Homo sapiens: one gene and its partner. The protein of the gene in region 1 purifies or fractionates together with the protein of each later gene. This does not show direct contact. Each region holds a gene or a part of one and is shown in the gene's direction. Other genes may lie near its edges.

Region 1 (7,027 bases):
CTCTCTGAACCCACGAGCCTGGGGACCCGCTATCTCTGCCGCTAGCCCTGGAGGTCCCTGGCTGGGCCCTAAGACCCTGAGTCTTGCCTGTCCAGGTCCCTTCTCCATCAGCACTTCCTCTGTATGTGCAAGAAAGGGGGCTGTGGTTACTGTGGGGATAGAGACCTGGAGAAGTGAAACCGTGCTGAGCATCTGGGAACTGGTGGGGGTAAACAGCTAAAATGTTCTTGCAGGAAACAGCTCTTATGGGGCCAGGGTGGTAGGCTACAGATGAAAGCAAGGGTGGGTGCACGCTTGGCTCTGGATCACCTCTAGAGTACCATGGGGCTGAGAGGAGCCCAGGAGGAGAGAAAACAAGGGGATGAGTCCTCATTCCTGAAAATGGAAGATGGGCACAATTTGGAGCATTTTCGTTTAGCTATTTATTTTGCTTACCTGTGTTGTCTCCTTTTTTTCTTTCCAATGACTGTCTTCTTTGTGTATTTAAAATAATAAAAGGGGGACTTTGAGAGGCCGAGGCAGGTGGATCACCTGAGATCAGGAGTTCGAGACCAGACTGGCCAAAATGGTGAAACCCCGTCTCTACTAAAAATACAAAAATTAGCCAGGCGTGATGGCGGGCACCTGTAATCCCAGCTACTTGGGAGGCCGAGGCAGGAAAATTGCCTGAACCCAGGAGGCAGAGGTTGCAGTGAGCTGAGATCGTGTCACTGCACTTCAGCCTGGATGAAATAGTGAGATTCAGTCTCAAAAATAAATAAATAAAATAAAAATAAAAAACAAAATATTAAAAGGGGAAAAAGACATAACAGTTTGTATGCCAGGTTGCAGTGGCAATTGGGGACAAATTAAATGTCTAAACAAAGATTTCTTTTTTTTTTTTTTTGGAGACGGAGTCTCACTCTGTCGCCCAGGCTGGAGTGCAGTGGCATGATCTCAGCTCACTGCAACCTCCGCCTCCCAGGTTCAAGCGATTCTCCTGCCTCAGCCTCCTGAGTAGCTGGGACTACAGGCCTGTGCCACAACATCTGGCTAATTTTTTGTATTTTTAAATAGAGATGGGATTTCACTGTGTTAGCCACGATGGTCTTGATCTCCTGACCTCAAGATCTGCCGGCCTCGGCCTCCCAAAGTGCTGGGATTACAGGCGTGAGCCACCACGTCCCTCCCTGAGCAAGGATTTTTTGCTTTGCTCCTCTGATCCCTTGATCTTCATGTGCATGGGGCAGCTCTTAGAGGTGTGCACGCAGGGCTTTCTTGGTGTGGGTGTTTCTGCGGGGACCCACTTGGGGGCTTCTGCTCCCCTTCTGTGGTTCTGGGTGTGTGGACAGGCTGCCTCTGGCTGAGATTTGAGCCCCAGCTCCCCCAGCTTCAGACGGGCAACCTTGGGCCGCTAAAGCCTCTGTTTCCTCATCTGTAGAATGGGGGCAATGACAGTCCCCCTCTTTTAGGATGACAACTGCGAGTGTACAGCTCAGGGCCTGGCTGTCAGTCACCTCCTGACTGATGAAAGTGAGGATTGTTCTTCTTCATAATAATGACAGGGCCAGAGCCGCATGGCTCACGTGAGCAGGTGCTGCAGACCCCGACCCTTTCTAGGACACCAAGAGGCTATCAGGAAACAGACCCTGGTGTCTGGGAGACCCACTTTCTCTCTCTACATTAGGCTGGGTGCCCACTGCTGTGCCTCTGGAAGAACAGGCTTGTGTGTGCACATGCGTGCAAGCCAGGACACGTTCGTCTTTTTATGTACATGTTCACCTATGCATTTCCAGTGTTTGTGCATGAGCGAGGCCACTGTGCTGTACAGCTCCAGGGACTTCCGTTTACACAGTGGCCTAAGTAAAGGGCTGTGCACTGAGCAGCGACAGGGGGCTGCCGCTCCTCTGACTGCAGTGTGGATGGCAGCCCTGAGCCTGTGCATACGCGGGCAGGCCTCTGGGTGCACATCTCACTGCACATGTGTCTGTGTGTCTGGGTGTATGAGTGAGGCTGGGTGTACATGTCTGTGAGAGTGAGTTCCTGTGTGTGTGTGTGTGTGTGTGTGTATTTGTGCCTCTGCAGGTGTGTTTCTCTGGGAATGCCTGTTTGTATCTATATCTGTGTTCCCATATGAAGAGGAGGGAAGGAGCCGTGTGGCTGCGTGCTTATGTGTCAGTGTGTGTGTGTGAATGTCTGTGCCTTTGGGATGCTTCTTTCTTTCTTTTTCTTTCTTTTTTTTTTGAGATGGAGCGTGGCTCTTGTTGCCCAGGCTGGAGTGCAATGGCGCGATCTCGGCTCACTGCAACCTCCACCTCCCAGGCTCAAGCAATTCTCCTGCCTCAGCCTCCCGAGTAGCTGGGATTACAGGCGCCCGCCACCACGTCCGGCTAATTTTTTGTACTTTTAGTAGAGACGGGGTTTCACCACGTTGACCATGGCTGGTCTCAAGCTCCTGACCTCAGGTGATCCGCCAGCCTTGGCCTCCCAAACTGCTGAGATTACAGGCGTGAGCCACCGTGCCCAGCCAAGGGATGCTTGTTTCTTTGAGTGTTTGAAATGCACACGTTTCTCTGTGTGCCTGCTCTTGTGTGTGTGGTTGTACAGCTGTATGGGAGAGAGGGGGAGAGAACAGTGGGCTTGGGTGCCATGCCCTGTGCTGTGCTGGTCAGCTGTGGCCCTGTGCCAAACCTGGAGCAGCTGCCTTTAGAGGCCAGGAGGGCTACTTCCCGTTTCCTGAGCACTGTCCCTCTGTCTGCAGGAGTGCTGCTGGATATACAGGAGGTTTTCCAGATCAGTGACAACCATGCTGGTTTGCTTCAGACTGGTAAGGAGGAGCCCTGGCTCTGGAGCCGGGGCCCTGGGTTCATGCTGGGGTGGGCTCTTTCTGTGGGTCATGTTCTGTGCCCAGCTCCAGCCCCACTGGGTCCCCTGGCACAGAGGGTGGGTGGGGTATGGGCCTGAGGGACAGTCTAGGCAGGAGCAGGAGAGAGCCTGGGCTGGAACAGCCATGGTAGTTTGAGTGTAGGGTGCCGCGGGAGAGCAGGGGGAGGTGGGGCTGGGAGAGGTCCCTCAGCCTCAGGTCCTCGCTGTGGAGCTGGCCATTCCTTCCCTTCGTGTTGGTGAGGCTCAGCGGTGCACCAGAGGCTTGCTGGGCTTTGAGAAATCCTGATGTGTGCTTTCCTCTCACAGAACTGAAAAATCTGACTACTGGGACACACAAAGTCAAACAGACAGACACAGACAGGCACATCCCCCCACATGGGCTCAGATGGACTCTGGGCCCACAGACAGCCTGACACCCAGCAGCAGGGAGCAGCCACACGTCCCATCGCAACATCAGAGCGGTTGGGGTCATGAGGCGTTAGCTTTTCCCTTGTGGGTGCCTGGATGGTGACACACACCCACAGTGTGCATATCCACACACCCACATGTGCACACACATGGTCACAACACGTGATACGCCTGTGCACACACCCAGGCTGTAACCAGCAGGCACCGAGGGTCCTCACAGTCCATCATCTCAGGGCTTTAGAACATGGCTCTTAAACCGGGGTACAGGGATCCCTGGGGATACACAGTCACTTTCCAGGGGTTACATGAACACAGAGAGTTTTGAGAGACTGATTTATTTCTAGATTCTCAAGCCTGTATGTTTTTTTCCTAAAATGACCTGCCTGAGGGGGAGCCTGTGGTCGGCCTGTGGTTCTCCTTCCTCTCCTTCCATTGTACAATTCCCTGTCTACCATGGTAAACAGAAAGGGACTCCTCTCCGCATCCTGGATGTGCTGCTCCTGGGTGTAAAAACCTCTGGGGTATCAAACAGAGGCCCCTGCGTGGATGCTCGGCTTTTCCCAGGGGGACCTTGGGAGCAAAGCAGAGAGCATCAAGAGAAACGTGCTGGGGAGATTTGCCCCAGGCTACAAGCGCAGGCAAGGAGCCAAGCCTTATCTAGCTGTTCCCGTGTGCAGTGTCTACTATTTATCTACAAATTAGAATTCAAAGTGAGATAGCGGTCTCAGGGATGCATGTCAACACATTTCTTTCAATGAAAGAAAATGAAGCCAACATTTTTCTTATAATCAGTTTGACGTCTAATTGCTTTGGCAAAAGAGGACAGGCATTATTACTTAGATTCTACTGTAGACATTTCCCATAAACTGAATAAACTCAACCCTGTAGCTCCAAGAGTTTGGATGAAAATACAGTTTAAAAAAATACACAACAACGCTGGAAATCCCATCCTTGGCAACGATTCAAACTTGGGATAAGAACATTTTAATGTTAGCTGAAAATGTGTGGAGGAGTACATAGTTCTAGAAACTTCTTTAAGAGTGACATGAGAGCCAGGTGCAGTGGCTCACGCCTGTAATCCCAGCTCTTAGGGAGGCAGAGGCGGGAGAATAGCTTGAGCCCAGGAGTTCGAGACCTGCTTGGGCAATATAGTGAGACCCTATTCTCCACAGAAAGGAAAAAAAAAAGACAAAAGAGTTACGTGAGCAACAGTTAGAAGATCATGGCTTTAGAACATGCATGGTTTCCAATTGCCCCTCAATCTTGTGGCCAAGAGACAGCAGCTGATGCTGATCTTCCAGCCATATCTGTGGCCAAAGTGAGACCATCTTGGTTCAACACCCACAACCTTCTCGATTAAATAGATAATGGTGGTTTAGTCAACATTTCCCTTCACTGGTTCTTTTTTTTTCCTTTTTTTCTTGAGACGGAGTTTTGCTCTTATTGCTCAGGCTGGAGTGCAATGGCATGATCTCGGCTCACTGCAACCTCTGACTCCTGGGTTCAAGTGATTCTCCTGCCTCAGCCTCCCAAGTAGCTGGAATTACAGGCACCTGCCATCATGCCAGGCTGATTTTTGTACTTTTAATAGAGATGGTGGGGGTGTGTTGGGGGGGGTCTCACCATGTTGGCCAGGCTGGTCTCGAACTCCTGACCTCAAGTGGTCCACCAGCCTTGACCTCCCAAAGTGTTGAGATTACAGACGTGAGCCACCACACTGGCCCTTACCATAGTATGGTTCTTACCGTAGTGGTCAAGATTATTACTACAAGTCCTGGGCCACGGAGGGAGAAGTGTGTGTGTGTGTGTGTGTGTGTGTGTGTGTGTTTGGCAGTAGGTGAAGAGAAAGGTCATCTTTGCAGAAGCAGCTCAAAAATTTCATGAAAGGACAGTGGGCTTAGAGGCCTGATGACCAGGCTGGTCTCTGGTGGCCTCAGGTGAGTCTCTTTACCTTTTCCGGTTACCGTGCTATGGCCCTAGACCCAGCCTGTTGTCTGTCCACAGGGCTGCTGAGAAGAGGAAACTGATGACTGAGAGAGAGGGTGTTGAAGAGATAGAGGGGTTGGGCTGGGCACGGTGGCTCACGCCTGTAATCCCAGCACTTTGGGAGGCTGGGTGGATCACCTGAGGTCGGGAGTTTGAGACCAGCCTGGCCAACATGGTGAAACCTCGTCTCTACTAAAAATACAAAAATTAGCCAGGTGTGGTGGCAGGTGCCTGGAATCCCAGCTACTTGGGAGGCTGAGGCAGGAGAATCACTTGAACCCAGAAGGCAGGGGTTGCAGTGAGCTGAGATCGTGCCACTGCACTCCAGACTGGGCCACAGAGCAAGACTGTCTCAAAAAAAAAACAAAAAAAGAGAAGAGGAGTGGAAAGTGAGAAGAGGCAGTGGTCAGGCTCCCTCCAGCCACCCATGGGATAGAGAAGCTGCTGGAGTGAGTTCATTAATTAATAATATTTAAAACTAACACTGACTTGGCCCTTACCACATGTCAGGCACGATTCTAAGTGCTTTAAATATCAACTTATTTAATCTTCACGACAATCCCACCAGGCAGGTTTTACTATTATGTCCATTTTACAGATGATGAAACTGAGGCTCAGAGAAGTTATGAGACTTGCTGAAGCTGGGATTTGAATCCAGGAAGTGTGCCTCCAGAGTCTGTCTTTTAACTCTGGGAGCATTCATTTCACCCACTGTGTCACAGAAATGATTTGAATTAGGAGACCTTGGGAATGAGGAGTGTCTGTTTTCCCCTTGGGAAGGGCATCTGCAGATTCACAGAGCGTCTGCAGGTTTAAGGCACTTAAAACAGCCTGCAAGTGATCCCTGCATGTGAGGAATATGAGGATATATACATATTTGTTGTTGTTTGTTTGCTTTTTGTTTTTTTTTTTGAGAGAGACTCTCGCTCTGTCACACAGGCTGGAGTGCAGTGGTGCGATCTCAGCTCACTGCAACCTCCACCTCCCAGGTTCAAGCAATTCTTCTCCCTCAGCCTCCCCAGTAGCTGGGATTACAGGCGCCCGCCACCATGCTCAGCTAACTTCTGTATTTTTAGTAGAGATGGGATTTTACCATGTTGGCCCGGCTGGTCTCGAACTCCTGACCTCGGGTGATCCACCGGCCTTGGCTTCCCAAAGTGCTGGGATTACAGGCGTGAGCCACCGCGTCCAGCTGGGAAATAGTTTTATAACTTTTGGATAAAGAAGATATGCATAAACAAGATATGAAATAACACTTGCCCCTCCAGAAGGTTAATAAATTTGACTACAAAGCTAAACACTTCCGTATGATGGTGATTGAAATTATGCAATCAGTAATAATAATAGATAACATTTATTGGACATTTACATGAAGCTATGCAGATAACTTTTATGTGCTTTATTTTACTTAATTCTCTCAGTAACCAAACAAGGGAATAGCACTGTTGATGAAAGGGGAACACGAAGAGTTAAGGAATCTACCAAAGGTCACATAGCTAGAAAGTGGTGAGCCAGGATTTAAACCCAGCCAACTTAGTCCCAGAAGTTGCGTTTCTAATTCTTAAAACAAATATAAAAGACTATGGGAACTTATTTCCAAAACATATTAACAAACAACAGCCCAATAGAAAAATGGACAGTGGGCCGGGCACAGTGGCCCACGCCTGTAACCCCAGCACTTTAGGAGGCCGAGGTGGGCGGATCCCTTGAGCCCAGGAGTTCGAGACCAGCCTGCACAAGATGGTGAAACCCCGTCTGTGCAAAAACT
Region 2 (6,911 bases), on another chromosome or scaffold:
ACCCTGACCACCTTGGGCACATGTTCTCAGGACCCCGAGGGCTGTATCACGGGCCATGGTCACTCATATTTGGCTCAGAATAAATCTCTTCAAATATTTTACAGAGTTTGACTCTTTTAGTCAACAATGGTGCAACCCTGTCTTAAAAAAAAAAAAAAAAAAAAGATCAGCCGGCTGTGGTGGCATGTGCCTGTAATCTCAGCTACTCGAGAGGCTGAGGCAGGAGAATCGCTTGAATGCGGGAGGTGGAGGTTGCAGTGAGTCAAGATTGTGCCACTGCACTCCAGCCTGGGCGACAGAGCAAGACTCCCTCTCAAAATAATAAGCACCAGAAATTGTTATATTTGCTTCAGTAAATAGCTGGTTACATATGTCCTTTTTTGTTTGTCTCCACATGTCTTCTGCATGGGGTGACTAGGTTCTTTGAGGTTCACATAAAAGAGAAAATGAGAGGACTGAAGTATCTATACTCTTGGGGTCCATCTCATTTGGCAGTGCAAGGAAGGGGAATTGGGGTGGATGGGTAGTGCAGAGGTTCTTAATTATTCCCAGGGAGGACATTTAGAGGTCTGTTCCAATTTTATGTGTGTGTGTGTGTGTGTGTGTGTGTGTGTGTGTGTGTGTGTGTTGCCTCAAGTTGAGAGATTATTTCTATTTTTAAAATGTTTAATTTTTCTATTGCATTGTGTTATATTGACAAAGTCTTGCTCACTATAGCCTAGAACTCCTGTGCTCAAATGATCCTCCTGCCTCACTCAGCCTCCCGAGTAGCTAGGACTACAGGCACATGCCACAATGTGGGGCTAATTTTTTTTATAGAGATGGGTGTCTCACTATGTTGCCTAGGCTGGTCTCAAACTCCTGGCCTCTTAACAGTCCTCCCATCTTGGTCACCCAAAATGCTAGCATTACAGGCATGAGACACCACATCTGCCCCCAAATTTTATTTTTAAAATGTTTACTTTTCCAAAATTGTAATGTCGACGGAGTCAAACTCTGTAAAATATTTGAAGAGATTTATTCTGAGCCAAATTTAAGTGACCATGGCCCATGACATAGCCTCAGGAGATCCTGAGAAGATGTGCCCAAGGTGTTTGGGCTACAGCATGGTTTTATATACATTTTAGGGAGCGTAAGACATCAATCAATACATGTTAAATATACATTGGTTCAGTTCAGAAAGATGGGACAACTCAGAGGTGGGGGTGGGGGGATGGACCTGCTGTCACATTGGTATCTTACTGCTACAAAGTGTGTCAGTGTTAAGGTCTCTGTTTTTTTTTTTTTTCCTGAGACAGAGTCTCGCTTTGTCACCCAGGCTGGAGTGCAATGGCATGATCTCAGCTCACTGCAACACCCACCTTCCAGGTTCAAGCGATTCTCCTGCCTCAGCCTCCCAAGTAGCTGGCATTACGGGCCCACCGCTTTGCCTGCCTAATTTTTGTGATTTTACTAGAGACAGGGTTTCACCATGTTGGCCAGGCTGGTCTTGAACTCCTGCCCTTAAGTGATTCACCTGCCTTGGCATCCCAAAGGGCTGAGATTACAGGCATGAGCCACTGCAACTGGCCTCAGGTTTACTTTAGAATGCCCTTGGCTGAGAGGATGGGCCTATTCAGTTGGTTGGGGGGCTTAGAATTTTATTTTCGTTTTATAGTAAGAAGCCAAAGGACACAACAGAGTGAAAAGGCAACCCACTAAGAGGGAGAAGATGGGGCCGGGCATGGTGGCTCATGCCTGTAATCCCAACACTTTGGAAGGCTGTGGCAGGAGGATCACTTGAACCCAGGAGTTTGACACCAGCCTGGGCAATACAGGGAGACCCTGTCTCTAAAAAAAAAAAGAAAAGAAAAAGTGGGAGAAGATATTTGCAAATCCTATCTGATAAGGTGGTTAATATCCAGAATATATAAGGAACCAAAACACAACAAAAACCCATTAAAAAATGGGCAAAGCCAGGAGTTCAAGGCTGCAGTGGGCCATGATCATGACACTGCACTTCAGCCTGGGTGACAAAGCGAGACCCTGTCTCTTAACAAAACAAAATAAAACAAACAAAACAAATGGGTAAAGGACTTGAATAGACATTTCTCCAACAAACATATACAAATGGCATGACCAATAAGCACAAGAAAAGATGCTCAACATCACTGGTCATTAGCGAAAGGCAAATCAAGACCACAGTGAGATACCTCACACCTATTAAGATGGCTACTATACAAAAATAAAAAGATGTCAGTGGAGATGTGGGGAAATTGGAACTTGTGCACTCTTGGAGGGAATGTAAAATGTTGCAGCCACTATGGAAAAGAGAATGGCAGTTCCGCCGGGCGCAGTGGCTCATGCGTGTAATCCCAGCACTTTGGCAGGTCGAGGTGGGTGGATAACGAGGTCAGGAGTTCGAGACCAGCCTGGTCAACATAGTGAAACCCCATCTCTACTAAAAATACAAAAATTAGCCAGGCATGGTGGCAAACGCCTGTAGTCACAGCTACTCAAGAGGCTGAGGCAGGAGAATCGCTTGAACCCGGGAGGCAGAGGTTGTGGTGAGCCGAGATCGTACCACTGCACTCCAGCCTGGGCAACAAGAGTGAAACTCCATCTCAAAAAAAAAAAAAGTACGGCAGATCCTCAAAAAATTAAAAATAGAATTACTACATAATCCAGCAATTCCACTTGTGTATATATATTCAGGAGTTGAAAGCAACAGATATTTGAACATCTGTGTGTATACCCAAAAGGGTTAAAAAACAGATATTTGTATATCCATGTTTACAGTATTATTTCACAGTAGCCAAAAGTGGAAACAACCTGTTATCCATTAACAGATGACTGAATGAACTGGTATATACATAAAATGGAATACTATTCAGCCTTAAAAGAAATTCTGACACGTTACCACATGGATGAACCTTGAGGACATTATGGTAAGTGAAATCAGTTACAAAAAGACAAATGCTGTATGAGTCCTTATATGAAATACCTAGAGTAGTCAAATTCATAAAGACAGAAAGAATGGTAGTCGCTGGGAAGGAGGGAGGGGAAGAATGAGGCGTTACCACTTACTGGGTACAGAGTTTCAGTTTTGCAAGATGAGTGCTGGAGATGGATGGTGGTAATGGTTGCATAACAATGTGAATGTATCTAATACCACTGAATTGTACCTTTAAAAATGGTTAAGATAGTAAATTTTACCATCTTCACAGTTTCCCGAGATTGCAAGGCCAGCAGTTAAAGACAAAAACAAAACTACTTCCAACTGCCCTACAGTGTGCAGACCTTTCCCTTGTCCTGCCCTGAGTAGAACTACAGTTGTCATTCGTGATCCTCCCTTTAAAAAATTATGCTTGTGGCTAGGCGCGGTGGCTTACACCTGTAATCCCAGCATTTTGGGAGGCCGAGGCGGGCGGATCACCTGAGGTCAGGAGTTCGAGACCAGCCTAGCCAACATGGTGAAACCCTGTCTCTGCTAAAAATACACATTAGCTGGATGTGGTGGTGCGCGCTTGTAGTCCCAGCTGCTCGGGAGGCTGAGAGAGGAGAATTGCTTGAACCCGGGAGGCAGAGGTTGCAGTGAGCCGAGCCGAGATCGCGCCACTGCACTCCAGCCTGGGCAACACTGTGAGACTCTGCCTCAAAAAAAAAAAAATCATGCTTGCGTTTCATGGCGAATGTTACACATTCAAACTTATCAAATATATTAATAGTAAGAAAATAGGTTTCCTATCCGTTGTATATATTTGAGTTCCAGGCGAGATTTCCTTCGCAGAAAGAGTTCCGCAGATGAAAAGTAAAAGAAAATCCGCGGCGAAAATAACCCGCGCGCAGAGGCCGGTCCCGCTACTAGCCCCGCCCAATCAACGAGGCCAATCAGCGGCCCGCAACGGGGGAGGGACACGCAGCCGTCAGCCGAACAATTCGATGACGAGGCCCAGGAAGCACGCTGAAACCCTGGGCGGCGGCAAGCTGTGCGACCTCTTCTGCGGCCGGCCTGGGCAGGTGTCTTCCTCGAGAGGCAGGCAGGGGATCCCGGACGTGAGTCCGTGCAGTTGGGTGTGTTGTGCGGCGGGTGGGGCGGGTTACCCGCCGTTACGCCCTGGCGGGTCCAGCGGACTCGCGGCGCAGACGCTGGGGAGGCCGCAGGCGCGACCCGGGGCGGGGACCGTGCTAGCTGCGTGCGTCCGCTGCGGCCTGTGGGTGCCCCGGGCTCCTACCTCAGCTCCCGCGCCGGCGGCTGCCTGTCCGCCGCGGTTGCGCGCGTTCCGGGGAGGTGCTTGGCCCAGAGAGCGGCCTACGGAGAAGGCACAGCGAGGGCAAAGCGAGACCTGAGCGCACGTTGAATTCTGTTGGCTTTGGTTATCTCTGAAAACTTTAAGCATAATTTGAATAAATGCTGTCAGCAGAATAGCTCGGATTTAGTTGTAGTTAATTTTCTAAAACTTCAAATCTGTGAATTAACACAGTTAACAACAACAACAAAAACGGACACAAAACAACCTCCAAAATGGATTTTTTTTTTTTTTTTGAGACGGAGTCTTGCTGTGTCACCCAGGCTGGAGTGCGGTGGTGCTATCTCCGCTCACGGCAACCTCCGCCTTCCGGGTTCCAGCGATTCTCCTGCCTCAGCCACCTGAGTAGATGGGACCACAGGTGCGCGCCACCAGGCCCGGCTAATTTGTAAATTTTATTTGTAGAGAAGGGGTCTCCCTGTGTTGTCCAGGCTTGTCTCTGACTCCTGGGCTCAAAGGATCTTCCCATCTTGGCCTCCCAAAGTGCTGGGATTACAAGCGTGAGCCATTGCGCCTGGCTCCAAATCTGATTTGAGTGTAAAAAGTTAGACACACCATAAGCTGTAGGTTTATTACTGGGTGGTGAAAAACAATTCAGGTTTTCTTTATAATAGTGATTATGAAGTGTTCTTCCCAGACTAGCTTTATCGTCATCTGGGAAATTGTTAAAAATGCAAATTCGCAAGTTTGAGAGCCATGGTTCCAAGAAACTGCATAAGCATACGAAATAAGTTGCAGCCTCCCGACTTATACCCTGGTACTTCTAGTCTAAAACAGGATTTGACTCTACTAATCCAGGTTAGTCTTGCCTTTCCCATTACTCATGTGCTTTCGTTGAAACCAAAGACTTTTTCTTTTGTGCCCATTTCTACTCACTGCCTGGCCGTCTGCACGACGATCTGTGTTTCCTGGTAGTTCTCCAGTCTAGTAGCTACTATAAACTACTCTCCCTATTTCCCGCTCTGTGGAGATGTCGTTCCAACAGGTCCTCTCCACTCTAAGACCCTATCCTCTCAGAGAAGCCCCTGAGAGCCATTAGTACTTTTGCCCTGGAGAGGCAGTTTAGGTAGAGCCAGTCTGGGTTCTACCACTTACTAGCTTGGTGGTCTTAGGCAAGTTACTTTGTGTGATCTGTAAAATGAAGATGAGTGAAGATAAGAGTACTACTTCCAGTAGTTTTGTGAGGATTAAATTAATGTAACAGTGCTTAGCACATAGTAACAAAATATTAGCTACTTTTTTTTTTTTAGACGGAGTTTTGCTCTTGTTGCCCAGGCTGGAGTGCAATGGCGCGATCTCGGCTCACCGCAACCTGCACTCTCTGGGTTCAAGCAATTCTCCTGCCCCAGCCTCCCGAGTAGCTGGGATTACAGGCATGCGCCACCACGCCCTGCTACTTTTGTATTTTTAGTAGAGACAGGGTTTCTCCATGGTGGTCAGGCTGGGCTGGAGCTCCCAACCTCAGGTGATGCGCCCGCCTTGGCCTCCCAAGGTGCTGGGATTACAAGCGTGAGCCACCGTGCCCGGCCTTTAGCTACTATTATACATATTATAATTTAAAAATTATTAGTACCGAAGCCTGAGACAGGAGAGAAATGGTAAAAATAGTAGGGACTGCGGGAGAGAGAAAGAGTAGTGTCCCCTGACAAGTACTAGAATGACATAGGTGCCACCATTAAACGAAACTAGCTAGGATGGTTACTTTCGATTAACACTTTGCTACTCAAGAGTGTGGTCTGCGGCATCACCAGGAGCTTGTTAGAAGTGGAGATCTCAGACCTACCTCAGATTTACTGAATCAGAATCGTTTTTTTTTTTTTTTAACAAACTCTTCAGCAGGTTTAGATGTAGCTTTGTTTGGAGGAAGTGTGAGATTCGTTTTAGGATTTCTCAAGGAGTTCCAGCCTTCAATCAGTGACCATGGGGATCTGGCAGGAGGGCTTGAATTTCTAGCTGATTCTTCTATTCTGTCTTACCCTCCTGTCTTCCATCATTTCTGCATTGCTAATCTCTATCCCTGGAGAAATCTATGGAACTGCTGGTTATTACTGTAGAAAGTAACATAGTTGCCAATAGTACGACTTTGTGGATGTCACAGTCAAAACTCAACTGCCTGGCTGGCACAGTGGCTCACCTGTAATCCCAGCACTTTGGGAAGACAAGGCGGCGGGCAGGGGGATCCTTTGAGCTCAGGAGTTCGGGACTAGCCTGGGCAACATAGCAAGACCCTGTCTCTATAAAAAAGAAAAAAAAATCTCAACTGCTTGACAGGCTTTTTATTCACTTCCCTTTGTATAATGCCTCCTGTAGTACCTTTTTTCCCCTCCAAATCTCCGTTTCCCCCATCCTAACCTCCTCACAGTGTTAGAAATGCAAATTACTCTTAATTTCTCTGTCCACTTCATATCATATTATAATATGAAATCTGTCAGTTTCTCTTTTTACTTTAGAAATTTTGTCTTCATCCATCTTCATTCATTTCTATTTATGGAGTATATAACCTCATTGCCTATGAAGAACCCTTCCCGTAACCTTAATTTCATGCACTCCCATCTTGGAGCCTCTCTCCAGTTTACACACTCCCTTTGTCACCTACTTCTTAACCACTTAGAGAATTAGGCT

Evidence for each region. Proteins that work in one complex are often made in the same cells at the same time.
Region 2: the proteins of SPNS3 (region 1) and CLCC1 purify together in Homo sapiens (affinity purification with mass spectrometry; 4 studies listed by BioGRID and IntAct, with this or other methods). This does not show direct contact.

What each region holds. Positions count from the first base shown.
Region 1 is NC_000017.11:4,436,918-4,443,944, forward strand, and holds part of SPNS3 (protein spinster homolog 3), read left to right. Parts: intron 1-2,740; coding exon 2,741-2,806; intron 2,807-7,027. UniProt on the Homo sapiens protein: Sphingolipid transporter.
Region 2 is NC_000001.11:108,960,485-108,967,395, reverse strand, and holds the start of CLCC1 (chloride channel CLIC-like protein 1 isoform 1 precursor), read left to right. Parts: upstream 1-3,911; 5' UTR 3,912-4,035; intron 4,036-4,926; 5' UTR 4,927-5,087; intron 5,088-6,911. UniProt on the Homo sapiens protein: Anion-selective channel with Ca(2+)-dependent and voltage-independent gating. Permeable to small monovalent anions with selectivity for bromide > chloride > nitrate > fluoride.